Linked DNA regions of Homo sapiens. The protein of the gene in region 3 binds, or shares a complex with, the protein of the main gene of each other region. Each region holds a gene or a part of one and is shown on either strand. Other genes may lie near its edges. A codon is read from its position in the direction of its gene.

Region 1 (13,045 bases), on a different chromosome or scaffold from region 3:
TGGTATTTATGTTTGTGTATCTCTCACATGCTCTCTAAATTATAAATCATCAGAGGGCAAAATCCACGGTTCTGTTTTGTTCCTCCCCATATTGCTCAGAGCACAGTGCCTGGCACACAGAAAGCTCTCAATACAGTTGCCAACTTGAAGAAGTGCTTTCCCAAGATATTTTTTATAGGTTGGCCACCAAGCCCCAGTTAGCCTCTTAAGCCATTTTATGAATATTTCATTTATGCCTTGGTGTCTCGGATTCATCAAACTAAACTATTCTATGTCTTCTCAGTATATAAAAGAGACTGTCCTAAATTCAGGGGTTGTCCCCATTGAAATGGTCTGTATGAAAGTTCTATTCTAATAACACCTGGTCTCTCTCTCAAGCTACGTATCAACTAAGCAAAACTCTTCCCCGACTTACGCCATCATAAAAAGCAGAATTTATAAGAGCCACAAAATAAAACGAATATTCCTTTGGCTCAGAGTCACCTTGCTCGAGAACAAGAAAAATCACGCGGTGATTCTGAATTGCTTCAAGGTAACTAATTGAAAAGCAATAAACTGAACAGAAATGAAATATGCTGTAAGAGTATCCAAAATACATACATAGAAAACCTTAACATATGGAATTCTTATGAGTCTTCCCTTGGTAACAGATAATGCTGTTAACAGCCATTACCATATGTTACTCAAGTTGAAGTCTACCACTACTTTCAAGTTGGCAAAATTTTTTAATACGAGCAATTCAGTCCAAAAAGCTTTTACAAGTGCTTCTTCAATGCCAAGCAGGGACTGGAAGCTAAGAGCACACGGAAGAATACAACGAAGTTTTGACTTCATAAAGTAAATAATCTTAAGTTTTCTCCACTTTAGTACACACTGTCTGCATTACTTTCTTTGCCTCTTTACCAGTTATTTCCATCAGCCATGATTTTGTCCGGATCGCCTGTCATCGTATTAGAAAAATAGATAGGTTAAAAAAGTTTCGTGGATTTTTTTTTTTTAAACAAGGGGTGGGGAACATATTCCCTGCCCCACCATTCTGATGAGATGAAGAAAGGCGGCTTGGGGGGTGGGGGTGGGGGAGGAGGCCAGGGAGAAATTATTTCTTCCATTCCCTTTTGAAAAATCCCCAGTCTAGTATGCTTGTCTATCAAAGCCCACCTAAAATATGATGTGCACAAACACATCAAAAATAAGTAGGCCTCTTGTAAAAGTGACACTTAAAAGGCAAACCATATGAGATTATTTCCCATTTTATTCATAGAAATGACTCTTGGCAGCACTGAAACATTTAAAAACACTCCTGGATATAATGCTGGTATTTCAGTTTTAAAAACTTATCCTACGGATCAAAAGATCCATGGAATGACAAAGCTAAAAATGTTCTCTCTCACTAATAAGGGTGAATCACAGCAGCCACCTACTCCACCCAACAATCGTCCTTGCTAAGACTGGACAGTTCAAAACCTGGAAAGCTTTCCTTGTCTGCTCCACACTGGAAACGAATTCACTTCAACACTAGTGTTTAAGCACAGGTGTGCAACAGCAAGGAAATGTTATTAAATGTTGAAATTTACCAGGACATTGTGTTCTTCAGATACAGCTGTGTCCTTTTCACATTTCCCGAACTCCCCTCCTCTCCTGTTTATGGGGGGTGGGGGGGAGCACAACAGATACTCTTACTTGAAAAATAAAGTATCTGTTCAGATTTTCTAAGTAAATTTCCATTACTGGGTTTGGGAAAAAATCCCTACTACATTGTCTGTAACAAAAAGGTGCCTGCGCCTTCTTTCAACTGCCTGAAGCTTGTGAACCGACTGAATACATTTAAAGGGCTCACAGATCTCAGGACGCAGTCTCCCCGCACAAGAAACTTAAAAACGCCTTTCAGTCTCGCAGAGACCTACTTGGATGTTTCCAAGTTCCATCGTTTGGTAGCTACCCAGCATCTGGGGCGAAAAAAAAGGACTTATCCTTGGAAAAGCGGCTTCTTGAGTCTCAACAACCGGAGGGACACAGTAGGGAAGTCAGGGCTCACCTAAAACCCTCCACCCCAGCAGACAGTCCGGCAAGCCCCGGCTCACGTTTGTTTCCGTGCCCGCGAAACTCTCAATGAAAAGCATCTCACAAAAGGCCTCCCCTGCTCCCCGCGCCGAGGACTCACCAGCACCGTGGTGCAGATGGATCTCAGCTCGGACTCCACTTTCTCCCGATAGTCCTTAATCAGCTGCAACTTCTTGTCGGAGGTGTCGGTCTTCTGCTCGATGCTAGAGATGACCCTCCAGGCGGACCTGCGGCCCCCGACCACGTTCTTGTAGGCCACGGAGAGCAGGTTGCGCTCCTCGTTGGACAGCTCGGCGCCCTGCTCGGTCACTGCCTTCATGCAGGTGGCCATGTCGTCGTAGCGCTCGGCCTGCTCGGCCAGCTTGGCCTTCTGGATCAGCTCAGTCTTCTCCATGGCGGGCGCGGGGCCGGGGCCGGGGCGGAGGGCGAGGAGAGCGAGGGCGAGCGCCGACCCGCAGCGGGAGGAGCCTCGAGAGCTGCGGAGGGGCGGGGCGGCGAGGCGAGAACAAAAAGCAGAGAGGGAGCGCCGTCAGACAATGCGGCCCGCCGCCCGCTTTTGTCTCCCGCACACGCGGCCGCTTGAATTTCCCTCTCCCCCGCCCCCTCCCCCGCTGGGCACCCGGGGAGGCCGCGGCCCGCGGCTGGAGGAGGCGGGGGCGGCGCGGAGGCCCCGCGCGCAGGGAGCCCGAGCCGCGGCCGCTCCCGCCACCCCCGCCCGGCCGGCCCAAGATGGAAGCGACCGTTGGCCCCGCACCTTCCCGCCCGGAGCCGTCCCTGAGGGGAGCGGCATCGACAACCGGCTGCTCTCAAGGGCGGCACCTCCGCCCGGCCCTCAATCCGAGCGCGGCCGGAGGAAGCCCGCGGGCCGACCCAGGCGCTCACCTTCACGTCTCCGCGGCCGCGACGCGAGTCCCACCACTTTGATCTGCTTTTGGCTTTAGCTGAGGACCCTCCCGTGTCAGCCTACCCCGGGGCCGAGGGGCGGTCCACCGCCCAATGATGCGCCGAGCTTCTCCCGAGAGTCCCGCCCCCAGCGCGCCGCTGGCCAATGAGGACCGAGCGCGCGGAAGGGGGCGAGGGGGGCGGAGCGGGAGGGAACGCGGAGGCTAGGAGGGTGGGTCGGTACGGGGAAGTTCGGTTGGCCGGCAGGCTGCGGCTTCGGCCACGGGGTTTCCTCCAATTAGATCCAGGGTAAAAGGACGTCACTGTTGCCATGGCGATGCCGTTACCAACTCCCCTCAGCCTCCCCGCCACCCCGGCACTTCTGGGTGCGGCACGAGACCCAGAGGCGCGCACGACCTCCTAGGCGGCGGCTGCGTCTCCCGCTGCGGATGGTGCATTGCATCTCACGGGCTCTGGCCGAGGCTGGACTTCGGAGGGTGACATATTCAGCTGTTTTAGAGCACGGGGGCCTTTCTTTCCTCCACCTTTCTATCCGTGACAAAGGTTTGGATCCCAAGACACTAAACCCAGACCTTAATGACGTTGCCATTAGGGCTCCGAATTAAGCAAACCGCATCCCCATTAAAGAAGAATTGATTCTGGAGACGGTGTCTTCAGTATGGCATTTACATGATAAATTCAAGTTTTCAGATGGGCATCCTAAAACAAAAAATTCCCTTGTGAAAAGGTAGGTCCCAGAAGATCCAGGGGAGTTTCTGTGACAATGCCAAGTATTGTGGTTTTCTTTAAAATGAGAAATGACATTAAGCACAATTTGCAGGAAAACACCTATTACTACCCCTTCCCACCCCCGCAAAAAAAAACCCTGCCCATAACATCTCTCCCCGCAAAAAAAAAGCAATTTTTATGTATCTTTTAGGCTTTCCAGGTTATGCACCTAAATACATCATTTTTCACATCGTTGTCACATGTGCACACGCTTTTGTTTCTGGTATTATTTGTGAGAGGTCACTTGAAAAGCTGAAATCCTCTCCCTGGATGTTGATTTCTGATTTTCTCCTCCTGGGGAACACCCTGCTGAAGCGAGAAAGATTCCCCCAGGCCCCTCCCATTCAGGGTCATCCCTGGCAGCTCCCTTTCCTCTTAAACCACTCCTGTCTCTCCTTGCACTTCCCCAGTTCCCTAACTCCATCCAGGTAGGGTGGCTGCCCTGCCCGTCTGGCGCGTGGTCCCTGTGCCATCTTAAGATGAGAATTGCCCTCTGGGTTCACGCTGCTATGATCCCGATTCCAGCAGGTCTAAGGAGAATGGATCATAAAGAATTTCCCATTCTGAGTGGAGACTGGAGCAAATCCGGAGAATCTCTAGAATGGGAGATTTGAGAGTGCAGACAGATGGGAGGAGAAGGTGCCGACTTTCCAGAAATTCAGACTCCCTCTTGACTGCCCCTCCCTGTCCTGACTTGTGAAGGTTGCTTTGTGCTTTGACAGACAGGAGCGGCCTGGATTGGAAAGGGCCTGTGTCTTAATGCAGAAATGCCTTACTATGTTCCAGCCTTCTAATGGAGGGCCCTGCTGTTATTTCTGGAATCCCTGGGGCCCCGCTACAGACACATGAGTGTTTATGGCCCTGTGGGCTGGGGTGGAGCTGGACACCGAGAAATCCCAATGGAAAGAATTTGCATGTGGAAGGTCAGATAAAATGCCTTCTGTATGACCAGTGAATTTCAAGCTCACCAAAATTAGAGGCAACCCGGGCAAGGGGAGAAGCCAGTGGAGGTGGATGGGGGATAGAGACCCAGGAGAGGAAATTGTCAGGGGATGGAACCTCTGTGGTAGAGAGGGACTACCAGAAGGAGCAAGCACACTAAATTCTTTGTCAGAAAGTCTAGGCTGTGCTGTGGTCTCCCCCAGTGACCTTGGGCAAGTTTTTGCTGCTTTCTGTACCTTAGTCTCTGAAATTTCTGCTTTCATTCAATCAAATATTTATTGAACACCAACTCATCTAGTTGCAATCATCTGGAATCATGGGTAAAAACTGCTTCCAACCAATAACACAGTATAAAATTGCATTTTAGGAAGATTCAGAGGACCCTCTACATAGCTAAAGGCTTCTGTGCCTGAAAGAACTCGGGTTGGAGAGAAACAAGGCTCTGGGAACTTGAAGTCCCTGGACACAGAAAGAGCTAACCTGTGTTGAGTGATTGCATATGTCAAGCACTATTTTAAGTCTTTTGCAAGAATTAACTTATCCAATCTGCTTAATGCAACTACAAAGTAGGTGTTATTATACTCACTATCTCTATTTCACAGACAAGGAAATTAAGGCACAGGGTGGTCAAGCATGACGTACAGGGCCACACAGCTAGAGAGCGGCAGAACCTTGGATATGGACCCCATGCAGTTTGGGTGCCAAAGCCCATCTTTTTAACCACTGCTGAGGCTGCCTCACCAAGTCTCCCCAGATCTCTGCTAGATGCTGTAGAGATCCTAGGATGGATCAGACCAGCCTCTGTCTTCTAGGAGCTTCACCCTAATAAATGTGAAACCTGTTAAGCATCACATCCAACATACTGGGAAGAAGTGCAAGGAACAGACAGCTAGCAAAGGGAGTACTGAGAAATTATTACTTTATTTATGAAGTTCTTATTATTTTTTCTAAGTTACCTGGTATGAAGAAGCTCCTGGAACAAAAAGGAGCACATTAACATGGAGCCAGAAGACCCTAAATTCAGCCCTGCTATTTATATGTGATTTGACCTTGGATACCTTGATCTTCTCTGAAACTCAATTCTCTCTACCTGTAATCTATAAAAATAATCCCAGCTGGGCACAGTGGCTCATGTCTGTAATCCCAACACTTTGGGAGGTCGGGGTGGGTGGATTGCTTGAGCCCAAGAGTTCCAGACCAGTGTAGGCAACATGTCAAAAACCTGTCTCTACAAAAAACATAAAAATTAGCTGGGTGTGATGGCGTATGCGTGTAGTCCCAGCTACCCGGGAGGCTGAACATGGGAGGATCGCCTGAGGCCAGAAGGTCGAGGCTGGCATGAGCCATGATTGCACCACTGCACTCCAGCCTAGGCAACAGAGTGAGACCCTGTCTCAAAAATCATCATCATCATCGCTACATCAAAGAGTTGTTTGGAGATTAGATGAGCTGTCACATAGGGAAATGCTGAGCATATAGCAAGTGTTCCATAAGTAGTGTTTTCTTCTTTCCTTCTTTCCCTCTGCTTGGAGGTGGGGTACGGCGCTGGCAGGATGCTATCCTGCTGCAAGGAGCCTTAGAACTTTATTAAATGTTTAGTGAAAGCTTATCTCTTGAATCATTGTTGTAATTAGTGCAGTTAATGGTCTACAGAATGGCTACATTCCATGTACATTTCAGAATGAATGAGTCCTTCAGGTTAAGCTCACTCTCATAAATCGTTTCAGTGATTTATTTGCTCAGACCAGTGGATCACCAGAAACTTCTTCCTTTCCTGCCATATGGCAGCTAGTTTAGTGACAAGCAAACATCTGAGTGGGACTTTTCACCCAAACTCTTCATATAATTATTATTGGTGCTTCTGTGCAGTGGGCAGAGAAAGTTGCCCCCCAACTCTGGCCTGTGGGTGCTAAATGAGGTTTCGTAGAGTCACACACAGGCAGGGAAATCAAGGGAGCCTGGTCAAGAAAGTTTTTCTACATATTCCTTAGTTTGAAACTTGATTCACTTTGTTCAGGGTGATGGTTAGTTGCATGTGTCAACTTGGTGGGTCACAATGCCCAGATACTTAGTCAAACACTATTCTGGGTGTTTCTTTGAGGGTGTAACATTTAAATCGGTGGGCTTTGTTGTTGGTGGTGTTTTTTTTGGTTTTGTTTTTTGAGACAGAGTCTCGCTCTGTCACCCAGGCTGGAGTGCAGTGGTGTGATCTTGGCTCACTGCAGCCTCCACCTCCCTGGTTCAAGCGATTCTCCTGCCTCAGCCTCCCGAGTGGCTGGAATTATAGGCGTGAACCACCACACCTGGATAATTTTTGTATTTTTAGTAGAGACAGGGTTTCATCACGTTGGCCAGGCTGGTCTTGAACTCCTGACCTCAAGTGATCCACCTGCCTCGGCCTCCCAAAGTGCTAGGATTACAGGCATGGGCCACTGTGCCTGGCCTAAATCGGTAGACTTTGAATAAGCAGTTTGCACTCCCTAATGTGGGTGGGCCTCATCAAATCAGAAACCTGAAAAGAACACACAAAGAGCATCCTTATTTGAGCAAGAGGGAATTCTCCAGCAGACTGCCTTCAGACTCCATCCGAAGCGCCGGCCCTTCCTGGGTCCCCCATAGATGCCTTTAGAACTAGAGAGGGAACGTGAGCTCTCCTGGGTCTACAGCCTGCTGGCCTGCAGGTTTTGAACTTGCCAGCATCCATAACTGTGTGAGCAGATTCCTTATAATAAATCTCTCTCTCTACACACGTACACATACATATAAATACATGTGTGTATTCTGTTGAATGCATTTAGTAACCTTTTTTTTTTTTACCCAACAAATGATATAGATATCTTTTTTTTTTTTTTTTAAATGGAGCCTCACTCTGTTGCCCAGGCTGGAGTGCAGTGGCATCATCTCGGCTCACTGCAACCTTTACTTCCCGGGTTCAAGCAATTCTTCTGCCTCAGCCTCCTAAGTAGCTGGGACTACAGGCACATGCCACCACGCCTGGCTAATTTTTGTATTTTTGGTAGAGATGGGGTTTCACCATGTTGGTCAGGCTGGTCTTGAACCCCTGACCTCAGGTGATCTGCCCACCTTGACTTCCCAAAGTGGCTGGGAATACAGGCGTTAGCCACCACGCCTGGCCAGATATGGATATCTTTTAATAGCTTTTAATGTATGTCTGCAACATATCAGTCTCTCTTCTCTCCCTTACCAGACCATGAGCCTCTTGAGGGTAAGGGTTTGTTTGTTTGATTGTTTGTTTGTTATCTTGTATTCGGTGAACGCTCAACAGCTGGGTAAACTTAGGTATTATAGTTCCCACTGGCTGACTAAACTGATGCTCAGAGAGGTTCAATTACCTATCCCAATTGGTAAACTTTAGAGTAAAGACTTAAAAACAGGTCTGTCTGATTTTTATCTTCTACTACAACAAACAAGAATCTGTGCTACCTGCAATGGAAGACAGAAGCTCCAGTGTTTGCTGGCCTGGGAACAATGTTTAGTTATTTGAGGTTGGTGGGTGGATGAATATGTATCTACCCCTGAGTCAGCAACTGATTTTATTTTCATACGGAAGGCTCTGTTTTTACGCTCGACACATCCAGCAGCGAAAGAGGTGCCTTCTTGTCCCTTGTCTGTTCCCTTTAATTGTCTACATGGTTCCCCTCCTCTCCCACTGCCACCATCAGACTGCTACCTCCCAGTGGGAGAAGTTACATCTGACCTCCATGTCCCTGGTGACTTTACTGGGCCACGGAAGGCATTCAGTGAAGGCTTGTTTGGAGAGTGGATCCAGACCATTCAGGACGCATTTCCAATAATGCTGACCATTGGCATTGTGTGCTTAGTATGTGCCCAACCATATGCAGAGTCACTAGAATAGTAAAGTCACAGAAGGAAAGCACGCAAGGCAGAGCTGTGTCTTCAGCAGATGTTCCGTAGATACAGGATTGCATCTGCTCGGAAGAATACACCCAGAACCTTCAAGCCAGAACAGAAGGTCCCTGAGCCATCAGAAAGCTGTCGCAAGATCACACACTGATGCTCACACATGCAAGACGTAGAGGAGTGTTCTCCAGGCCCTCACTCAGACTCAATTTCCTGCTAATTCATTCCACAAAATATTTAAAGATCTTCAACGTGCCAGATGCTGTCCTAAGGGCTGGGGTTTCCAGCATGATTAAGATACAGTCTGTGCTTAGAAGGAGCTTGACCGAGAGCACAGAGGTGGGTGCCTAACCTGGAGGTCAGCAAAGGCAGGGAAGATCCCCTTTCTCTTCAGTTGCAAGATGTTCAGTTACCAGGTTTCCTGGTCCACAGCAGTCTAGAAGTGGTTACTTAGAAGGTGGGAGCAGAATTAGTCCCGACACTTCATCTGAAATCTACTCCACATTTCCGCAGATGATTTTGAGTAGAGTAACAGCTAGGGCTTTGAGGAGCCCATATCTATGGTCTATGCAAGGCAATCAGTGGACAAGGCAGAGACAACAAACCCATAAAGAGCTCATGAAAAACCTGGAGAGGCCAGGGCCAGTTAGCATCGGGGTACATGGCCCATATATCCCAGGCAGGCCCTAGGTACGCAGCAATTAGCCTTAATCATCACAAAAAAAATGGTCATTATATTTCATATTTTTTGCTTCATATTATATGTAGACATATACCTTCTCTCTCTGTCTCTCTGGACATATATGAGAGTTGGGATTTTTTTAAGTTTTGGTACATAATCATCTCCCTAATTATGACTCATCTCCAGACAATTCGAGATAGTTGAAGAGATGAATGACCACAAAACAGCTAGAGAACAATGCACACAGGAGTTGATTGTGTGCTTCTCACAATAAGTGCTATGGGAGTTGAGAGAAGGGAAACATGAGTGTGGGCTCAGGCACCAGAAGGCTATGGAGTGAAAGGGACCCCTGTGGGGACAGCAACTGAGGTCATGCCAGTCTGTGTTTCCATCCTTCCTGCTGCCCAGTGGAGGGGCCCCTGGGAAAGGGGAGGAAGGCACAGGTGTTTCTGTTTGTGCTGGAATTGCTTTTGGACAGGGCTGACTCCCGAAAAGGTGGATCTGGATACAATGTCGGAATGTGACCAGCCAGGAGAGCTAGGCAGCCATGGTGCAGAGGACTCTTCTGCCTCTCCCCCTCCTGCCCTAACCAGCTCAGCACCAAGCACATGGGCACTTTAAAAGCACAGGCCATGCTGGGAGACTCACTGTGCTACCCTCAACCCCTTCAGCAGGAGCAGCTCTGTGAAAAGTGCAAGTGTGACCTTCATTTTGCTTTGTGACTTAAAACCCTTCACCGTTACTCAGCTGCAGCTCAGCATGGTGGTTGGACTCAGGAGCCAGATGACCTGGGTTCAAATCATGGCTGCACTACTCACAAGATATGTGACTTTGGGCAGGTCAGCTGGCCGCTCTGTGCCTCAGTTTCCCCATTTATAAAATGGGGATGATGGTAGTAAGAGTCCTACCCCGCAGGGTTGTTAGGAAGCTCCACGGAGGAAGGCTGGTGAGGAGCTCCCCCACTCCTCTCCTGTCTTCTCTCCTGGCTCCATTCCTTCTCTCTGCTTCAGCCTCTTCTGGGCTTTGCTCTGCTGCCATCTTCCCCTGGCTACCTGCTCATCTCTCAGGTCTTCAAGGAAATGGCACTTTCTCCATGGGGTGTTCTAGGGCTCTGAGCCCCTCTCAGCTAGGTGAGCTCCCCCATCCTGGATTCCCCAAGCAGGTAGTTACTTGATGTTGCTTCCCCTGGTCCACTTGTCCAATAGCTGAAGGTATCTCAGAGAGGGCGTGCTACGTCCATGTGATTTGCCTGTGTAGCCCCAGTGCCTAGCAGAGTGCTTGGCAGATACGCTGGGTGCCAAGAAAGCAATGGCCAAATGCACGAATTCACAAAGGATGGAAGGAGGAGTCCATAGGCCAGTGCACAGTGCCCAAAGGACAGAGCTGAGGCTGCTGGTCAGGACAGCTTCAGGCTCTGGCCAGGCTCCAGCACACAGCTGGAGGCACCCGTGACTCTAGCTGGGAGGGGCTGGAAGATCCAGGCAGCCCCTGACCGCCCTCCTTCCCCTTAGTCATGTCCAGTTCTGTAAACAAATTCTCAACTGCACCAGAAGGCCTGACAGTTAAGAGAACCCAGTGAAGAAACCTTTTGCAGAGAGAGAAAAGAACCCTTTTGAATGTGATCAATCACGCTGATTTATTTGGATGATTTCTCTTCTGGATTTCCTTAAACCAGGGAAAACCCAGGTAAGATATTTGGGGCCCTCATTCATCTAGACAAAATACATAAAAGTTTGTTATATCAAAAGTCACCTCTGGAAAAAAAAGGAGTTTTGCCAACCCACTCAGCTATTAATATGAGATGCTCTCTGCCTAGGGACAGCAATTGCTATAATTGATGCAAACGATCCCAGCCACACTCCCTGATCCTGGTTCTGAAACTCAGAGATGCAGCTGACCAGACTGATGTGGCCAGCCTCACTCTGAAGGATCCTGCAGCAGACAAATTGCTGGAATGTGTTCAGACGGAATCCAGCTGCTACAACCGTCACACAAACTTCCTGAAATAGAGGACAAAAGGTAGCAACTTGTCGCTTCTTGAGCCAAGAGATTTAGGACATGAGACCAAATGAGAGAGATTAAAATAAAAAACGCAAGAAGTTAGTGAAATGAGGATTTAGCTCACCAGGCCAAAGCAGGCAGTCTTGGGTCTTTGCTGGACAGTTGTAGCTGCCATATAAGCTGTCCCTGCCAGGGCTGGGATCTGGAGGCTGATGCTGAAACCTCGGCCTGGAAATGATGCTGATGAAGCAGGGCTCTGACAGCCCCTGCACTCTCAGAGGTCTGGGCAGCACAGATGAAATTATCACTCCAAGATCCTCAAAGCATCCAGGAAAAAAGCACATCTAGGAACATTAGCTGAATTTTGTAGAACACTAGTAAGCACCTAGTAGATGCTCAGAAAATGCATATTTTCCTTCCCTTTCCTGAATTCCAGGGGCCTTGCTTGGTCTGTATTAATTACTATATCAGAGTCCTTATTTGCAAGCGAAAGAAACCAACTCTAGTGGATTTGAATATAAGACTATTACTTCTTACTGATTGTGAGGAAGGCTGGTGAAGCAGGCTTATCGAATGAGCAGGCGCTGGGAGGGTGTGCAGCTAGAACCAATGGCCAAAATCACCCTGCAGACCTCTCCCAGGGAGATCCCTGTTGCTTCTGCCACTGAACAGCAGACATCAGACCATGCTGCACTGACTCCGTGGCACCAGGTCCTGGAACCTGGACGCCGACACGGTCCAGGACCCTCTACTCTCATTTGAAATCCATGACACTAAGCCTTGCTGCTGCCCCACAAAGGAATTCTCCACAGTCCCTGCTGCTTTGGGTCATTCACTCCAGATTCAAAATCCTGGCTGTGGTGTCTGGCCAGGTCCGAGTCACGTGCCACGCCAAGGTTCAAGATAAGCTAGGGGGAGTAAGTATCTGGAATGTACACCTTTCAAAGTGAAAAGTGGGCTCCACTTCCCACTAAGGTTCATAAAGCGGGGAATTCTTCCAACAAAGGAAGGGGCTTCAGAGGCTGGGCAGCCTGAAAATAGCACATCCCCTGCAGTTATACTTGGGTTTCCAGTCTACGTGGCAGAAAAAAAAAAGCAAAAGCCATGCATGGACAGTGTGCAAAAGCTGGAGCCTGGGAAAAGCCTTAGCCTGGATCTCATCTTTCTCTCTCTGGAAAAGGTTGGGGGAGCTTTGCTGTCATTGATGTCCCTACCTGGAAGGCTTTTCCCTCCCCAGACTTGCCCTCCTCCGTGACCCACAAAGATCTCTCTCTTGTTGAAGTTGCGATTCTACCTCTAGATTGCATCACACTTTTTAGAAATGAATTACTTCATTTATGTAGGTCTTGTCAAGCTCCCCCAGGATGAGGACAAAACTCGTATTCATTAAACAGTTAATAAACATTCACTGAGTGTCTGCTAGGCCTTGGGGAGACCTAGGGGACAAAGACATGGCCTGTGCCTTTGAGAAGAAGGTCACATCGGGTGCCAAGTGTGTGGAGGTGTGAAGGCTTTGCAGAGGAGATGACTTATTTAAATGGGTCTTAAGATGTTCCCAGCCATTGGTAGAGGGAGAGGTGCATCCCAGAGAGAAGGAACAGCATGTACAGGGCAAGGAGTCATGAGAAGGCGTGGCGATTTTGGAACAGATTTGTTGGGATATGGTGTGCATGTGGGCAGCAGGCAAGGAGGTGGGAGGTGAGGTTGTTGCTGAAGATTGGGACCACACGGCTGGGCACGGTGGCTCACGCTTGTAATCCCAGCACTTTGGGAGGCCGAGGTGGGTGGATCACGACGTCAGGAGTT
Region 2 (12,112 bases), on a different chromosome or scaffold from region 3:
GAGCAACAGCAGCCGCAAGACATTGTTTCTCTCCCTCTGCCCCCCCTTCCCCACGCAACCCCAGATCCATTTACACTTTACAGTAAGTGACTATTTTTTTTTCCTCCTCCGATTCTTTCCCCCCTCCCCCATTCCCTTCTCCCCTTATTTAGATTAAAATCCCTCCTCCCCCGATCTCCCGAGAGGGGCAAAAGCAACAACCAGCAAACAAACCCAAAACCCCAATCGGCTGCACGGAAAACAGCTGGAAGAGGAGCGAAGGAAATCGACGCGTCGTGTTCTGTGTGTGTGCGTGTGTGTGTGTGTGTGTGTGTATGTGTGTACATACAACCGTCCCCGGCTCCAGGCTCCCGGGCCGACACCCCCACTCTGGGCGCAGGGGCGGCCGGCGGGGGGGCTGTCAGGGGCTGGGTGGGCGCCCGCCGGGCTAGGGGGCGCGCCCGGGCGGGGGGCGCGGGCGGGGAGAGCGGCGGCGGCGCCCCGCTCCCCCGGCTGCTGGTCCGGTCGCAAGTGCGGAGAGCCATGTCCTCCTCCCTCCGGGTGGCGCAGGGGGGAGGCGGCGGCTGGGGTTGGGGGGTGGTCCCTTTCCCGGCCGCCCTCTTCCCATTCCTCCTCCCCGGAGAGGGCGGTGAGAGAGAGGGGGTCTCACGGAGGGCTGGACTTCTCCGCGGGTGGTCGCCCGGCCTCGGCGCCCTGGGGCGGGGGTCTCCCCTCGGAGGGCCGGCCTCGCCGGGTGTGCGGCTGCGGGCGGGGAAGGGACTGCTCCTGCAGCCGGGACGGGACTTTGCGCGCGGCCGGGTGCCGGGCGGGGGGCGCAGAGGGGTGGCCTCGGGGACCGCGCGGGGGTAGCGGGTGTGCGGGTGCCTGGAGCGCGGCTGGAGTGGCGGTGACGGCCCTGGCCGCCGCCGCCACCGCCGCCCTGTTGGTGCGGCCGCTTCCTGATCATGTGCAGCGGCAGCCGCCGCCCGGAGCCGGGAGCCCGCGAGCGCCCCAGTCCGGGCCGGCGCCCCCGCCAGCACCCGCGGCAGGAGACGAGGAGCCGCGGCAGGCGCTGCCCTGAGCCGGGAGTGAACGGCTGCGCGGCTGCTGGGAGGGTGAATGAAGCCAGGAGGAGGGGAAGGAGGAGGAGGCGGCGGCCGCCGCGGAGGAGGCGCTGCGGGGATTGGGATGCGCCCTGGAGCCCCACTGCTCGTTCACTCTGGGCCGGGCCGGAGACTCTGCCACTCCCGGGGGCGCCGCCGCCTCCTCCTACGTGGTTCCAGTGCTGCGCGCAGGCCGGTCCCGCAGGGGGCAGGGAAGGGGGCCGGACGGGCGGAGCGAGAGGTGAGGCGGTGTCGGAGCGCGGCGTGAGTGTGAGTGAGTGTGTGAGTGACTGTGTGTGTGTATTTGTGCGCGCGCGCGCCGGGCGGGGGGCGAGGGCCGTCGCGACGCGGAGGGGGCCCTTCCTTGGCTACTTGGCTGACTCTGCAGCGCCCCGACCCCTCTTCAGCCCCCCGCCTTCAGGCTGCCTTCTTAAACTCCGTGGCTTGTGCTTTCATTTTGTTTCAGACCACGTAGGGGGCTGACTGAAAGGGATGAAACAATTCAGGTTTTCTAGGGAGATTGAGCAAGAACCTTAGTGGGGGTGGAAGTAGGGTGGTGATCGAGACTCTGCCAGAAAACAAAACAAAACAAAAAAAAATCCGTTTCTAAGGACGGCGGGGATTCGGTTCGAGCCCGTGGCTGCTCTGTTTTGTTTTGCTTTCTTGGTATATAATCCTACAGATAAAAGGGTAATATAAATATTTGAGAAGAGGGAAATTGCTGAAGAGTAGTAAGGGCAAAAAAAAAAAAAAAAAAAAAAAAAAAACAGTCGGAAGAAGCTGGTTATATAATGCGCGATGTGGCTAACAAGAAAGGCAAGCTATTTTTATTTTGTTTACCGTATGCTGTGCAGTAGGGACTCCTCCAAACTGGTTCTGTCCCCGAAGAGATTCTTAGCTTCCCTGCGAGATCCACAGGATACAATTAGCAAAATTAGAAGACCCTATTACACCCACAGAATAAAAACTAATGCCTTACAGTGGCTTTCTCCCTGCACATCCTGTCGTGCATGCACGGGAATGTGTGTATGCAAATAAGTTCTCCTTTGGCAATCTAGTAGTCACATCTCAATGACATTTGTGTTTTATAATGCAGGCTGTTTTTAATATTTAAACATCATTGTTATATATTGCACACAGCAGTGGGTAGTTACTTGGTTATTTTTAGGCACAGCTAGTTACTTTTTCAACAGTGTTAGCTGAGACATTTCTGTTTGGGTTTTTTAGGAGGCTGCAGTTCCTAGAAGCCCCCCTTAAGCCCACCCTTCGGTTTATTTGATGGGTAAAGGTAGTTTGATACTTGAGCTTTTTTTGGAGTGAAGCTTATGTCTGAGGAAACCACCAGAGAGAAGAGAAAATCCTGCACAGGAACTCTTGGAAAGGGATTGCACCATAACGGCTAGCGCTGTGGCATTTAATCTCCTCTGATTGCCCTCTCACTGTGCATGCATCAGTCAATATTTTAGCAGCTCCGCAAATAAATGGACTTGAATGCCATCTTCTACATAAAGCAGAGGTTGAAGGGCTCCCCTGAACCTCCTGGCTGCCTGTCAGTGGTGTAGGTTTTCGGTGCACTTACTCCAGTCCTGATCACTCATGTAATTAGATCAGGCTGCCATGGCAACAGACAGTGTTCCTCGTCCATTCAGGTGGGTTTGTCTTGTGCCTGAACTACTCCAAGTGTTTTATGCACAGCATTTATGCTGCCCAAGCCAGACGAGAGACTCCACTATTTCAATTGCATCTTCTTTCAGTCATTTGGATGGGAGACACTGAATGAGGCTTCTAGCTACTCAACTTTTATAAAGGAGACCAACAAGCTGTTCTTCCTAGGTGCAGTATGTAAATGCATCTCCCCAGACAGTGAAAGGAGCCTGACAATCCTGCTGGTGTTTATTGTGAACAGATCAACAAGTATTTGGTACTTGTTAGAAACCTTTCAGAGCTCACTAAAGCAACATTTCTTTTGCAGTCTGGTGCCTTTGGCCTTGCAGTCAGTCACTTAACCCTTTCAAGTGTGAAGAGCGTTCATCATTTGGAACCTCCATTGCCCATAGCGATGGCTGGATTTCTAAAGGGTTTACTCAGGGGAATAACTTATTCGGAAAATATATTCCCATTGTCACATTTTAAAACTTGACAGCCATCATAACAAAAACTGGTACTGACAGTAGGCAGACATTCTGAATGTATTCATTCTTAATTTGGATCTATTGGCTGTGATTTGAATGATCTTTGGTAGTAAGTTAAAAGGATTTTTTTTTCCTTAGCTAAGCGAGAAACGATAGAGGCCTATAGCTAGAGGACTGATAGTGCATGGTGCTTTTGGACAATAAACATGTACTTTATTTTAGGATGTAATTTAGTGAGCAGTTAGAAAGCAGTATTCTAGTCTTTGCATTAGGGCACCACTGATAAAGCTGGCTAAGCAAAGAGAAATAATATTATGGCAAAAAGGAAAAAAGGAAAAGTTGCTTTAGTTGCTGAAGCTCTGTGCTGCTCAGGCAATCCAACTAAGTGGGGCAGGGGGCGGGCGGGGGGGAGTATTTTCATAACCCTGGTATTTGAAAGAAAAGATAATTGAGAATTATGTCTTGATTTAGTTGTGACTGCCAGTCAGTTTACAATTTTATGGCCAACAAAGCTAAACTGGTAAATTTTTTCCCCCAGGGCTAGGATTGAGAGAGCTACTCAACTCTATTCCCAGGGGGTTTATGAGTTTTTACCGTTTTGTGAGTTTATGTGGTTGGTAAATTCATTGTGGCCTGGTCAGATGAAGCACTGCTGTAGTTAAAATGAGCTATTATTTCTTCTAGCTACTCAACTTTTATAAGGTGGTAAATAGATGGGAAGCAAGGATGTCAATATTACACAATGCCTTGGAGGTCCTGGATTCTATTTTGCAACATATAGAAAAATGCTTTACTTGCAGTAAAATGTGAACATATATTTTTCAGTGCACAAATAAATTCATGTGAAAATAAGTATAAAAAAATGTACCTGGTGGGAACCGCCAAAGGCAATATTTTTCCTTGCGGATTTCGTTTTAAGAGGGTTTGGTAAACAGAAGTGACACTTTGTCAAAAATGTTACGACTAGACTTCAGGACTTCTGAATTGTCTTTTACACTTAGAGGAAGATTAAACAGAAACTCTTTAGCCACAAGATTACATGTCAAATGCCTGTAAGTTTCAACATACCTAAGTCAGTTGCCTAGGAGTCCTGGGAAAGGCCAGTGCTGAGATTATTGAAATATTAGTAAACATTACTATGACTCCTGTTTTTGTTGTCATTATGGAGTCCAAGGACGCACATTTCTTTGAATAATGTTGTGCCTTTATTGTTTTTCATTCTGAAATGTCAAGTGGATTTTACTTTTTTGCACATACCTTGAGTGACAGTTTCTGATGACTAACACTAACACTCATTTTGTTTCCTATTAAAAGTTAAGCAATAAACATATTTTACTAAAATTCTGAAACTCACGTAAGTAGGTAAATGTGGGAGTGAATGTTAATTCTTTAAACTGTAGTTATCTGAAAATAACACATAGATTAGGATCTGAACAGCTTAAATACTTGCATCGGTAAAGTGACAATAGTGAAGTAAGACAGGCTATTATTTTTAGGGGAGAGATAGATTATTTGACTTTCCTTGCTCTGTATTTTCAGAGTAATTCAATAGTTCGAATGATTAGTTTCTGTGAGAGATTTAGATCTGTGCAGCTTAATTGCTTCAAATAACAGATTTAGTTCTGGTCATACTTCCAAGGTTATCAGAAGCAGGCCCTCCTTATTTTGATAAAAGCATTGAAAGCAATACATTGTAGAAATGGTAATAGAAATAATAATTTCTGTTTTAGGACCTTACATATAGAACTTCCTTTTCTAAGATAAGAATTTTAAGTCATCAATTATGTTCACATTTTATTTTCATGTAATTTAGTTTAATAAAATAAATGTACTCATTCAAAATTTTTTTAAGAAGTGATATACAGTGTCAGTTTTACAGAATTTTTTAAATGTTGGCTGAAAGAACGGTAATTACATTGAGATTTTTAAAAATATATAAATGCTTAAAATTACAGAAGTAATAAAAAGAATGGTTTTAGACAAATCTTATGGAAAGTTTTTTATTTTATTCTTTTATAATTATATTTATGGATATTTGTCTTTATTAGTGTAGTAATATATTTTATAACGCTCATAATTTGAACTTTCAGGCTAATGTACTATAAATATTTGTATTACGCATTACTACCATCCCAAATGTACCAAAACACGTTTAGAGAGAACAATTATGGACAAAAAAGCAACAAGCATTATATTTTGTTTGACATATTTCATGTTAGCAGAAATGTTTCATTGATTTTTCTGTAACTTTTAATGCATCCCATTTGTGGAGTAATGAAAATGTAATGATAATTGCCACAATGTAAGCAAAAATTGTATCCTACCTGAAAATTACTTTCCAGAAAATTCATGGTAGTGTACTCAGAATTTGAGACTCAAGAGGGCAGAGGTTTCCCCGATTGTGATGTTTTGATTTGGGCTAAGAGGAACTCTTTTTTTTTTTTTTTACACTTAGGTGCCCTTTAACATGACAAGTTTTGAATGAGTTAGGTAGCAGAAGTTTTTCGTGACAGTTATTGTAGCTACTAACCTATAGCATCTATCCTTCTAACGTTCAAAGAAAATATATTTTTCTGTCACTGTGTATGGCAAACTTTATTTTCTTGTGCCCTTAATTTTGTTCCCCTTTCTCACATTATCTCCTGGTACTTACTGACCATTACCTCAGTTTTGTTTAGGCCGTCTTTCTTGTTAATCTTCCAATATTAATAGTATTGTATTATGTTGCTCTGCTGGGTTTTAAAAATATTGAGTATTCCATTTTTGGTGTATATTATTGTATAAAATGTCCTATAAATTATTTTCTGGTATATTATTTTGTAAGTTTTTGCAGTGAATACGTGCTGCCTTGCTTGTATTCTTGCCTTCTTCCCTCTGATGGAATACAAGTTATGTAAACTCTCTGTATTATCCTAACTAGTGCAGCAACACAAATACTTTTGAAATAAGAAAGCATACTCATGCAAGAGTAAAGTAATCTTCTATGGCATTTACATCATGTTTGACCCTCCTCTGCACTTCAGCAAACTAGGAGGAGGTTGTAACTTGGACTCTATAAAACCTTATCTGCCAGGTGATATGTAAACAGGATTGTGTGCACACACATTGTCATATAGGCAAACACTCTCCCAACTGGTGAGCTCATAAAAAGCACTGTCTGTAAATTTATGGTACCTGCACCTCATTTGAGAATCAAGTATTTTGATGCTTAATTTGAGATGACATCATGATCCTCCCTCCCTGCTTCCTCATCCTTAAAGAAGTACTAAGATTAAATAGAATTTTGTCAACTTCTACTTAACTTGGCCATTATTTATATTTGTAACTCAACAGGCTTCTTGGTGGAGGGACTGTGCCTTCTAAAGATCTGAAAGACCTTATAGTGTATAACAGCTTACCTTCCTTCTCTGTACGCACAGATCACATGTGGGGAAACCAAGGACTACAAGAATTCCTTCTTTTGCATATCAGTCCTCGGCAGGCAATCAATGCTTAAATAAATGCTTGGTGAATGGATTAGTTAGAAGTAAGAACATTTTGGCTACTGTTCATTACTTTGAAAAGTGCTGGAAAGAAGTGGAAGTTATTTTCCTTTCCAGCTGGGCTGTGCTCTTAAAAATAGTGAGTGTGTATGGATGAAAATAATCATGAGTACCGAGATGTGTTGCCATGTACCCAAGGATAATTGGCTCACTTACCTGTTTACGGATTATTCACATTGGAGATCATATTCATAGCTCCAGAATAGTTTCTTTCTGACATCCAATATAAACCTGGGCCTCCTTCTTCCTACTGTTACCTGGCGTGAGCTTAGGAAACCCAAACTAAGTTTAAAATCAGCCTAAGCAAATGTGCAGATCAGCTCCAGTAATCAAAGACTGAAAATCAGTCCAGCATTCACTAGTTTGGGGATGATTTTATAGTAACCCTGCTACTGATTTTAAAAAAATTTTTTTTTCTGTTTAATGTGGATAATTGGTAATTACCGGTATTTAAGAATATAATTTTAATGGATAGGGCTAAAAAAATACGTTAGCAGATCGAGTCCTCAACTTCTTCCGTTTCTATGCATAGGTTTTACCTCACAAAAACTACTACAAGCACCAAGCTCCCTGATGGAAAGGTATATGGAAGATTCATTCATTCTTTCTTTCATTCATCCATTCACACATTCACTCATTCATCATACAATGGAAAATTTTTACTTAACCATGTGCAAGGAATTGTGGCAAAATGAAAATGAGATGTACATTCAGTATTTAAATAAAGTTTAGTGGAAAGTTTAGTGAATATAAATGCACACTTTACACTTTTTTTCTGCATTTTTTCCTTTCTTCTATTCCATTGGACTGGTATGCTAATAGCTGTGCACTTTCATCATTGTGTTTCAAGTTGCATGTTGATAGATAATATATGCCACATTAAAATTAGGCTTTGGCTCAATTACTATTCAATCCATGCCCATTTTCACCTGATACTCCTTGTAGTTACCAGCATGTGTTTATCAGATGATTGGCTAGAATCATTGGAGAAAAGAATGACAGCGGCTGGCTCAAATGGGGAGACCATCCTCTTAATTTGATGGAAGGGATGACCTTTTTGTATGTTGGCCTCCCTCTGAGCCTTGTTGAGTAAAACCAGACCTGCCTTTTGAGCTGGCTGGGATCTGTGTAATTCTCATACAACAGAATGCCGAATGTGATGTTCTTAAAATTTGTATTTCGGTGCATAGACACTTAAGGTGGACTTATTTTTTAAAGCAGTCTATTCTGTTTTTCATTTTGGATTTCCTCTCCTGCACTCCCTCGACCATTGCAGGAGCATCGTGCATCAAGTCACCAGGGTGGTCCATTCAAGCTGCAGATTTGTTTGTCATCCTTGTACAGCAATCTCCTCCTCCACTGCCACTACAGGGAAGTGCATCACATGTCAGGTGAGAGTTTTGCGATGCTCTCTGTTTTCCATCTGAGGATAAAGTCCTGACCTGGAAAATTGCCTCCTAGCCATGCTCCCTTACTTTGTTGGCTGTTGAATATCATTTTCTTTGCAAACTCTGTTTGGGCATAGTGTGGGAAGTTGAGAAATTGCCAAGATTGTTTTTTAAAACTTCGATTAAAGTATCTATCTATTTGGTTTAATCTATATGTTCATGAAGACTTTCATTTGACTTTGCGATGATTGATAATTGCCAATTGGGGCTTGAACCTCATCATTTTAATTGTCAGTTTTCCTTAATACAATTAAGAATGCTATGCTACCAGATATCTTAAGTCACAGTTTTTGCATTTTAGATTACTGTTGTAGTATAATATGTGCGTAGCAAAACAGAGACCTATTTGTTTAGGGGAACCAGTATTTGTTGAATCTTGAATTTCTTTGTGTCTGTTTGGATTTTACAACTTCCTGATTTTCCCACGTACAGTAAGTTTTTCTGGCCTGGAGAGTCATGCAGACATAGGGTGTATGCAATGGTGATGACTCATGGTTCTCTATTGAAGAAAGGGCCAGAGGATATTGCCTCAAATTAAATCAGGAAGGAAAAAGAGGTTTGCTAGAACTTGGGGCAGTAAGGGCTTGGGAACACAAGGGTTTGAGTGTATGTAACCAAGGGAGATTGTGAAATAGAAAATAGGGGATCAATTTCTATTTGCCTTGGAAATGGACCTGCTTGAAACTGTGAAGACAGACTAGATTAGAGGTTCCCAAGCCTGGCTAGGCAACAGAATCACCTGGAGAGCTTAAAAAAATAGAATTTGGAGCTCCACCCTAGACTTGATGAATCAGAATGTTTCCTGCTGGAATCATTGATCTGTCTAGGCACTGATGCTCCACAGGTTTGGGAACCCCTGGGTCGGCCGGTCTTCCAGCAACTCTTCCTAAGTTATGTTCTGTAGACTTAGTTGGTGAGAAGCTCATTCTACTTTTAGCAAATCTCCCATTTGAAAATTTGAATTTTCAAAACTCATTTTTCAAGAGGTAGATGGATATTTGCTTTATAACAGGTTCATTTAAACAATAATTGACCAGATTTCTTTGAAGAAAGAGCTGCCTCTTTACCGTAAGAGCCAATTTTTAAGTTACATATAAATTCTCTGGCATCTTAGATAAGAGCATGGAGCTCCGTAATCAACCCATCTGGACTTAAGATCTGGAGCTGCCACTATGACCTTGAGTAGTCCTATGTCCTTTCAATGCCTCAGTTTATTCATGTATAAGATGGAGGTAATATTAGAACTTTCTTATAGGGCTGCTGTGAGGATGGACTGGAGTAAAATAGTAGATATACTGTGGGTAGAATAGTACCTGGTGTATGGTTTGTATCTTTTAACAGATGCTATCAAGTAACTTATCCCTCAACAGGTTGATTGTTATGGTCATGTTTTATGATGGTTGCTCCTGAACCATACATGACTAGAAATATGTAAATATACCTGGACCTTGGTCTTTGGACCCACCCTGTAGACATCTACGGCTCTGCAAAGCCAAGGAGCCTTTTATTTGTTTTTGCTGAATTTTAAATTCTGAATTTATCACAACTCTCTGACTGATGGGATGCATGTGTGGTTTTTTTTTTTTTAGATTGTTGTAAAATGAACTGATGAATTGCATGCATAAATGTGGTTATTTGTGGTCTGAGTAAAAATAAACAAAAACCTGAGTGACTGAAGTATTATGCCTCAGGAAAAACAGCCAAAAAAGTCCCAGTGGGGGACAAGGTGGAGGAGGGAAGAGTCATCACAGACACGATACTCTTGTAAAATATGGAACTGGATTCCTTACATTTTATTGGCTGTGGATTAGAGAGGTGTTCTTTAAGTGGAAATGTAACCTAAAGTTACATGCAAAGGTAAGCCTCTTAAGATCTACAAGTGTCAGCTGAATGAAAAAGGTAGGGTGGGCCAGGCACAGTGGCTCATGCCTTTAATCCCAGCACTTTGGGAGGCTGAGGTGGGTGAATCACTTGAGGTCAGGAGTTTGAGACCAGCCTGGCCAACATGATGAAATCCTGTCTCTACTAAAAATATAAAAATTAGCCAGGCATTGTGGCAGGTTCCTGTAATCCCAGCTACTTGGGACACTGAGGCAGGAGAATCGCTTGAATCCTGGAGGCAGAGGTTGCAGTGAGCCCAGGTCTCGCCACTGCACTCCAGCCTGGGCGACAGAGTGAGACTCCATCTCAAAAAAAAAAAAAAAAAAGAGAGGAAAGAAAAGAAAAAGGTAGAGTGTCTTACTGCTACTTTATCTCTTAGGGATGATACTCATTTTAACGGTTATGTGCTAGGCTGAAAATCCTCACATTTAGATCTTTGGGGAAATAGTTTAATTGCAAATGGGTTGAGTACACGTGCATTTTTTTTAACCTGTGGTGTTGAAAGGGAGTCATTTGTGATAACAGAAATATCTCAAGAATTTTATTGTGAAAAAACAGGCAGCAAAAAGTCATATCTCTTGGTCAATATGGGCAGCTTATTGAGAAGAGACCTAGGTTTTTATAATATGTTAGGCAAGTTTAAGTGTCTTATGAATACTAAAATACTGACGAAGTAGCGCAAAGTCACCTTGAATTTTAAGCGCTGACATTTTCTATGATTGCATTTAAAGAAAGCTTATAAGCATTATCTAAACATTTTGCATCAATAATGGCCTCATTACAGTCCTCACGATTGACGGCTCAACGTAGGCAGAAAAATAGTATCATTCATGTTGTACTCTTTTATATTCATTCAGTTTTTTTCTTAAACCTACATTATAGTTCTTTCTGGTTCTAGTTATTTTATAAATATGATACAGCTATAGCAAGTTATGACCTAACTTGTTCACAGTCACTATTTATGTAAAGAAATGATTCATTCATTTATTCATTGTGAATTTTTTTAAAACTACTGCATGGTGCTGTGGGAATGGAAGTGAATAAGAGCTACCGGAAGGCAGTTATTTTCTTCCTGGTCAGGCAGGGGAAAGAAGAAACTCTCTGAAATAATGAATACGAATAGAATGGGGTTCTAACAGTGTTCTAACAGTGAAGGAATTCAGAAGAGTGACGCTGAGTAGGAGTGATCAGGAAAGACTTTGAGGAGGAGGGATCACTTGAGTTGAGCTCTGCTGACTAGATTGCATTTCTGTGGGAAGAGATGGATGGAGCATGAGGAAGGCCATGTGTGTGTCTGGGACATAACAAGCCAATGCACGGTATGTAACTGACCAGGACATTTTGACTGAAGCCTAGGTGCTGGTGGACATCTGAATTTCTGGATTCGAGCAGACAGTAGAGAGTATGGGAATAAAACTGCCGAGAGGTCAAGTCTGAAGATAAATTTGGAGGAGTCCTTGGCATAAAAGTGATCTTTGAAATTGGGTTCTTGGGCCTGGCAAAAAGTTTGACACCCAGGAGGGGGATGACTGAATTCAGGGATGACGTCAGCTGGTGTAGAATGTGTAGAGAGAAGGTAAGAGGCAGCGGAGAGTAGCTTCAACATTGATGTGGCATGGCCTTCGTCTGCCTTCTTTTCATGATCTGGGGTGAAGGAGGCTGGGTGGCTGGAGGAGTTGGGTGATGTATGCGTGGGCCATAAGGACTCTTCTGCAGCTCAGGCACCTTGGAAACTCAGTGCTGAACTACAGTTCAATGAAATCTTGTCAAAACCTCTCTTCCTTTAAGACCTTTAAAAAAATAGGAACTTGAGCTAATTTTAGCTAAATCTAATGTGTGTGTGTATAAAAATGAATGCTGCGTTTGAAATTCAGCGTATGCGGTATCTCGTTAAACAAATGATCCTTCTATTTTCCTCTAAACAGTTTTATTAAGATTTTCAGTGAAGCCCTGTACGTTTTAACAACAATTCCAGCATTTCTTTGATCTTTTCTACCGTTGATTTATTCATCTCACATGATATGCGT
Region 3 (4,757 bases):
TCACTGATCCATTAAGGCACTGTGATTCTTGTGGTTAGGTTAATTTCCACTATCACAATAGTGTGCTTCAGGCAGGCGTTACCAATCAGTAAACACTAGTTAAGACCAGCTTTCCAGCACTATCCTACAGGACCAAGCTCAGGCAAGAATTCTGGGAACATAGTGACCCAGTGCATATGCGGTTGCCCTGGCTGGAACTTCCTGGTGCTCCATCTCTAGCTTAGATGCCACTTCTGTGGAGGTGTCCTGACCCTCCCACTCCTAGTTGTCATCCCTCCACACAGGGTGTAGGTATCTTGTCACCTCAGGTGGGCACTGTGTCCACATGCTGAGCAGGAGGGGTGTCACCCAGGGGAGGTTCCTTCAAGCCCAGTTGCAGTGCAGGCCCAGGCCACATGGGGGCAGCAGGGGTCACACTGAGGACCAAGGGTATTCCAGGTAGACTAGGCTCCCTCCCACCCACTGCCACCTCTGGGCTAGGACCTCTTGGGACCTGTTTCCTGAGTACGAATGACCCCAGAGCCAGTGAGGGTAAACCATCCAGTGGCATCTTGCCTCAGGCCTTCCCCAAACTCACGCAGTCCAATGGCTGAGAACAGGGCCAGCAGGCATTGAGGCTCCCGGAGCGCACAGGCTCCTAAACTGGAGAGGGGCCATCTGGTCCACAGCAAGTCAGGGACCTGGCCTATGGGGTTCCTCTGAAGTTGGGGGCAGTGGTACTGGAATTGTTGCCCCCACCTCATGGAAAGCCTACCGCTCCATGACAACTCAGGACAGGACTGGTACAACCAACAGCCCTCCCTGTTAAGAGCCTACAGCCACACAGGTGTGTTAAACAGCTTTAATCTCGCTCATTGCGGCTTCTCGGCACAGTAAGAAATATTGCACATGATCAACATGTTTTGTTCTGGGGAAGGGGGCAAGGGCAGGGGGAATCACCTTCTTAGAAAGTACAACCCAAGTTGGGAGGGCAGAGGGGGTGAGGAGAAAACCCTCCCCGTGCCTGTGGCAAAGTGCAGGAGCCCCCACCCCCAAACTAACCTGAGTCCAGCCCCTCTGGGGAAAAAAGGGGTGCATGAACTCCCCCTATTCCACAGGCGCCTCCCTGTGGCCCAAGGCCTGCACCACCCTCCAGCTTGCAGCCCTCACAGGAGCCATTTTGCATAAAGTGAAAAGCTCTGAAGGTCACACGCTCCAGGTTATGTACAGGGGCTTGGAGGAGGGAGACTGCCCCTGCAGCCCCTCAGCTGCCCCCCAGCACCGGGAGGGAGCTTCGAGGGAAGGGGGTATTTACAAGAGGAGCAGGCCTCATTCCGCCCCAAACTGGAGAGGACGAAATGGCTTTACCCGGGAGGAGATAACCTTCCTGCCCCCACATACTGTCCATGTCCTGAGGGGGTACTATAAGTCCTGGCATCTTCTCAGGGGTCCCTCACCTGCCTGTGGCAGCTGTGGAGGGACCTGGGGGTGGGGGGGAGGGCTGGGGAGCCCCCTCCCAGCCAGGCTGTCCAGGCCCCGACTCTGGGGGTGGAGGCAGTGGCGGGGCAGCCTGGGCCGTGCCAGAGTCCGAGCTGGGTGAGGTGGGGTCAGGGCCCCCTGCGGGGCTGGGAGTGGGGGCAGGGGCAGCAGCGGTGCCAGTGGGGGGCGGTACAGGGAGAGGAGCCTCAGCTCCAGGGGGCTGCTCCGTGGGAGTGGCAGCCTGCATGATCTTCTGGCGCACCTCACGGATCTTCAACTGCAGACAAACCTTGGAGGGAAAGATGTCTGCATAGCGGGCCTGGAAGGCGGCTGTGGCCTGGGCTGGAGATAGAAAAACGGTGGGGAGCACAGGATGAGATGTACAGATAAGTCCCACCCGAGTGACCCCAAGACTCCGAGACAGGCTCACCTGACGGGAAGAAGCCATGGTCCTGAAAGAGCTGCATGACCAGGGCCCGGCGCTGGTCCAGGGTGCGCCGCAGGGAGGAGTATGGCACCTTGTCATACTCTAGCTCCCCAAGCACGTCCTCGGCTTCTGTACCTGTGCAGGGCACAGGCAGCATGGCAAGGCTGCAGCAGCGGCAGGGCCTTCCTGCCACCGTCTGAGTGCCCACCCAAGCCCTCACTGCATTCTATTTCACAGGGGAGTCAGAGAGGGGTCCTGCCCACAGTCACAGGGCAACCTAGGGGCCTGCCAGACTCCAGAACCCACCACTGACAGGCTGTGCTTCCTCCCAGCCTGGATGGACCCACCCTACCTCTCTCACTCTCTAACCGCCTTCCAGAGACCCACTCCTCTTGCAGGTCCCCAGGCCCCCAAAGTTCTGCCCACCACGGCACCTGTACGGTCAAAGGTGAAGATGTCCCCCTCGCACTTGGCACTCTTGGGGGTGTTGGGCTCCGAGCTGCAGCTGGAGCGTCTTCTCATCTTGCGCTTGGGCGAGGTGGGGTCCTCGGGTGCTGAATCCAGGTCTGGCCAAACAGAAGCAGACTCAGTGCAGGTGGCCCCAGTCTGCCCTCCACCTAAGGACCCTGGGTGCCCAATGCTCGCCTACCCGTGGAGTTCTTCCTCTTCTTGCGGTAAGAGCCCAGGATGGCCCGGGGTGAGGTGGCCAGAGACTGCAGGGTGGGGGAGGGCAGCACCTCCTCAGGCCGAAACTCAGGCAACTCAGCAAAGCGCTCTTCGAAGTCCACTTCTGACAGGACCCTGCTGGAGGGCCGGCAGGGTCACCTCCCCCGCCTCAGCCTGCAGCTGCTCCCACTCCCGCCACCCTAACACGCTCCACCAAGGCCCCAGCCCATGCTCACTTGTCCACAGAGTCAAAGGTCTTCTTCAGGGGCGGGGGCCGCACCTTCACCTTCTTGCCAGTACCAGCCGCCTCCTTGCGCTCCGGGGTGTCCCCGGCTGCCCGCCCACTGCTGCTCTCGCTGCTGCCACCAGGGGCTACAGCTGGAGCTGGGGCCGGGCTGGGAGGAGTGGGAGGCTCCCCACGATTCTCCAGGCCCTGCCCAGGGACGCGCCAGTCTGAAGATGAGCTGGGGAATTTGCTGGCCTGGGGTGGAGATGGGCAGGGAGATGGCGAACACTGAGCTCAGACTCTGGGGCAAAGGCCAGAAACAAAGAGTTGGATCTGAGCCCGCCCAGCAGACCCCTTGAGAAGGCTGTCACACGGCCTCAGGAAGGCCAAGACAGGGGCCTCAGATGGGAGAGGAGACAACACAGGCAGGCAGAAGGGACAGAGGGGACCCTTTAACCTGAGAGACACACAGGCATGGAAAGAAGAGTAGGACAGAAAAGCAAAGACGTCAATGGAGAGGCACAGCCAAGTGGCAGTGGGAGCCCCACGGCCTGCAGGCGCTCACCATGGTCTCAGGGCCCTTGGCGCTGGTCCGCTCCTCAGCAGGTGGGGGCAGTGGGGGGCTGCTCCGGGCCGTGGGAGTCCAGGTCTCTGGCAGGGGTGGAGGGGCTGGTGGTGTGGGCTGCCCCTCAAGCTCAGACTCTGGGGCAGTTGGCTCTCGGACTGGGCCAGGCTCCAGAGGCTGCCGGGGTGCAGGGCCAGGCCGCCCAGAGGCACCTGCCTCAAAGGACCCCACGGGAATGCTGGCGATGGCTGCCTTCACTTTCTGGGGGGCCTTCGGGCTGGGCCGCTGGGCCTTGGGGGCCACTAAGCTGTAGGTCATGGAACCTGCTAGTGGGGAGAAAATTGTTTGCTGAGCCAGGCCTGACTGGAGCCCATCCCCTGGGTCCCCCAACTCACTCTGCTCTGGGTTGATCTGACACCTACCTGTGGCGCTGGGGAAAGGGCTAGTCGGGGCTGGGGTGGCAGTGGCAGGGGCTGGCGGGCCCTTGGGCAGAATGGTGGCTGCAGGTGGGGTTGTGCTGGTGGCCACAGTGTAGACCAGGCTTGGGGGGGCCTGGGATGGCTGGGCCAGGGGTGCTGAGGAGGTGGGTGCAGGGCTGCCAGAGTAAAATGCTGTTATGACAGGACCTCCGGGGGCTGCACAGGCAGGCGGCAGCTGGGGACTGGGCACAGGTGACACGCCCACCTGACCGGGAGCCAGCAGTGGGGCTTGGCCTGCTGAAAGACAGAGAAGAAGAAGCAGGAGACCAAGTTAGGGCCCGGACTGCCTCAGCCCCACCCTGGGTCCCCAGCACTGCCTGCCAGGCCGCCCCTCACCTGAGAGCAGGGGCTGCACGAAGGCGGGGCCGCTGGGCCCCAGCGAGGTGAAGCCTAGAGCTACAGAGCTCGTGGGCCCGTACGAGGTGACTGTTCCAGCCTGGCTGGACGCAGGGCTGGTACCCAGGGGCAGCGCGTGCCCGCCCGCTGACTGCACATAGGTGATTCTGCCGCAGGAGAGGAAATGGGGAGGAGTGAGGTAAGCCGGCCCCGCCCCACCCCTTCCCTGGCCTCTGAGTATGGGCTCAGCTGCAATTACCTGGTGGAGGAGGGCAACAGGACCTTCTGAGGCTGAGAGGTGGGTCCAGGGAGTGTGGCTGGGCTCAGGGGCGGCACCAGGCCGCTGGGTGTGCTCACAGGCACCGGGGTCAGCTGGATGATCTGTGGAGAAGGGCACCCATAGGCCAGGGTGAGCTGTGGCCCCAGACTGGGGCAGGGGAAGACCAAGACCTCAAGTGGGACTCTAAGCAAAAGCAAGGAACACAGAACTTGGGGTGAGAACAGGATGGGCAAGATGACAGTGAGAGGTGGGGACACAGAGAAGGAGGAGGGTACAGACACTGAGGACTTGAGAGAGTCAGGATGCACAGAGACATCACG

What was found.
Region 1: the proteins of CIC (region 3) and YWHAQ are in contact, whole or in part, in a crystal structure (PDB 6KZG), measured with the Homo sapiens proteins. Residues at the interface, in NP_001291744.1 of Homo sapiens: Arg1207, Ser1208, Met1209, Ser1210, Glu1211, Thr1212, Gly1213, Thr1214; in NP_006817.1 of Homo sapiens: Lys49 (codon at 2,311), Arg56 (codon at 2,290), Lys120, Arg127, Tyr128, Gly169, Leu172, Asn173, Val176, Tyr179, Glu180, Leu216, Ile217, Leu220, Asp223, Asn224, Leu227, Trp228.
Region 2: the proteins of CIC (region 3) and ATXN1 are in contact, whole or in part, in an NMR structure (PDB 2M41), measured with the Homo sapiens proteins. Residues at the interface, in NP_001291744.1 of Homo sapiens: Val943, Phe944, Pro945, Trp946, His947, Ser948, Leu949, Val950, Pro951, Phe952, Leu953, Ala954, Ser956, Gln957; in NP_000323.2 of Homo sapiens: Pro572, Tyr573, Phe574, Ser578, Ile579, Ile580, Gln581, Leu582, Ala583, Leu587, Val590, Leu593, Phe598, Ser601, Ala602, Leu608, Asp611, Ser613, Phe631, Val633, Ala638, Gln639, Val640, Val642, Tyr648, Pro649, Phe650, Phe651, Trp657, Ile683.

What each region holds. Positions count from the first base shown.
Region 1 is NC_000002.12:9,627,998-9,641,042, forward strand, and holds the start of YWHAQ (14-3-3 protein theta), read right to left. Parts: upstream 3,001-13,045; 5' UTR 2,944-3,000; intron 2,538-2,943; 5' UTR 2,456-2,537; coding exon 2,162-2,455; intron 1-2,161. UniProt on the Homo sapiens protein: Adapter protein implicated in the regulation of a large spectrum of both general and specialized signaling pathways. Binds to a large number of partners, usually by recognition of a phosphoserine or phosphothreonine motif.
Region 2 is NC_000006.12:16,749,268-16,761,379, reverse strand, and holds part of ATXN1 (ataxin-1), read left to right. Parts: 5' UTR 1-82; intron 83-213; exon of another isoform or gene 214-242; intron 243-1,195; exon of another isoform or gene 1,196-1,323; intron 1,324-7,288; exon of another isoform or gene 7,289-7,337; intron 7,338-8,032; 5' UTR 8,033-8,147; intron 8,148-12,112. UniProt on the Homo sapiens protein: Chromatin-binding factor that repress Notch signaling in the absence of Notch intracellular domain by acting as a CBF1 corepressor. Binds to the HEY promoter and might assist, along with NCOR2, RBPJ-mediated repression. Binds RNA in vitro.
Region 3 is NC_000019.10:42,291,867-42,296,623, reverse strand, and holds the end of CIC (protein capicua homolog), read right to left. Parts: intron 4,539-4,757; coding exon 4,417-4,538; intron 4,325-4,416; coding exon 4,158-4,324; intron 4,059-4,157; coding exon 3,765-4,058; intron 3,669-3,764; coding exon 3,343-3,668; intron 3,033-3,342; coding exon 2,788-3,032; intron 2,690-2,787; coding exon 2,535-2,689; intron 2,452-2,534; coding exon 2,320-2,451; intron 2,021-2,319; coding exon 1,889-2,020; intron 1,801-1,888; coding exon 1,433-1,800; 3' UTR 828-1,432; downstream 1-827. UniProt on the Homo sapiens protein: Transcriptional repressor which plays a role in development of the central nervous system (CNS). In concert with ATXN1 and ATXN1L, involved in brain development.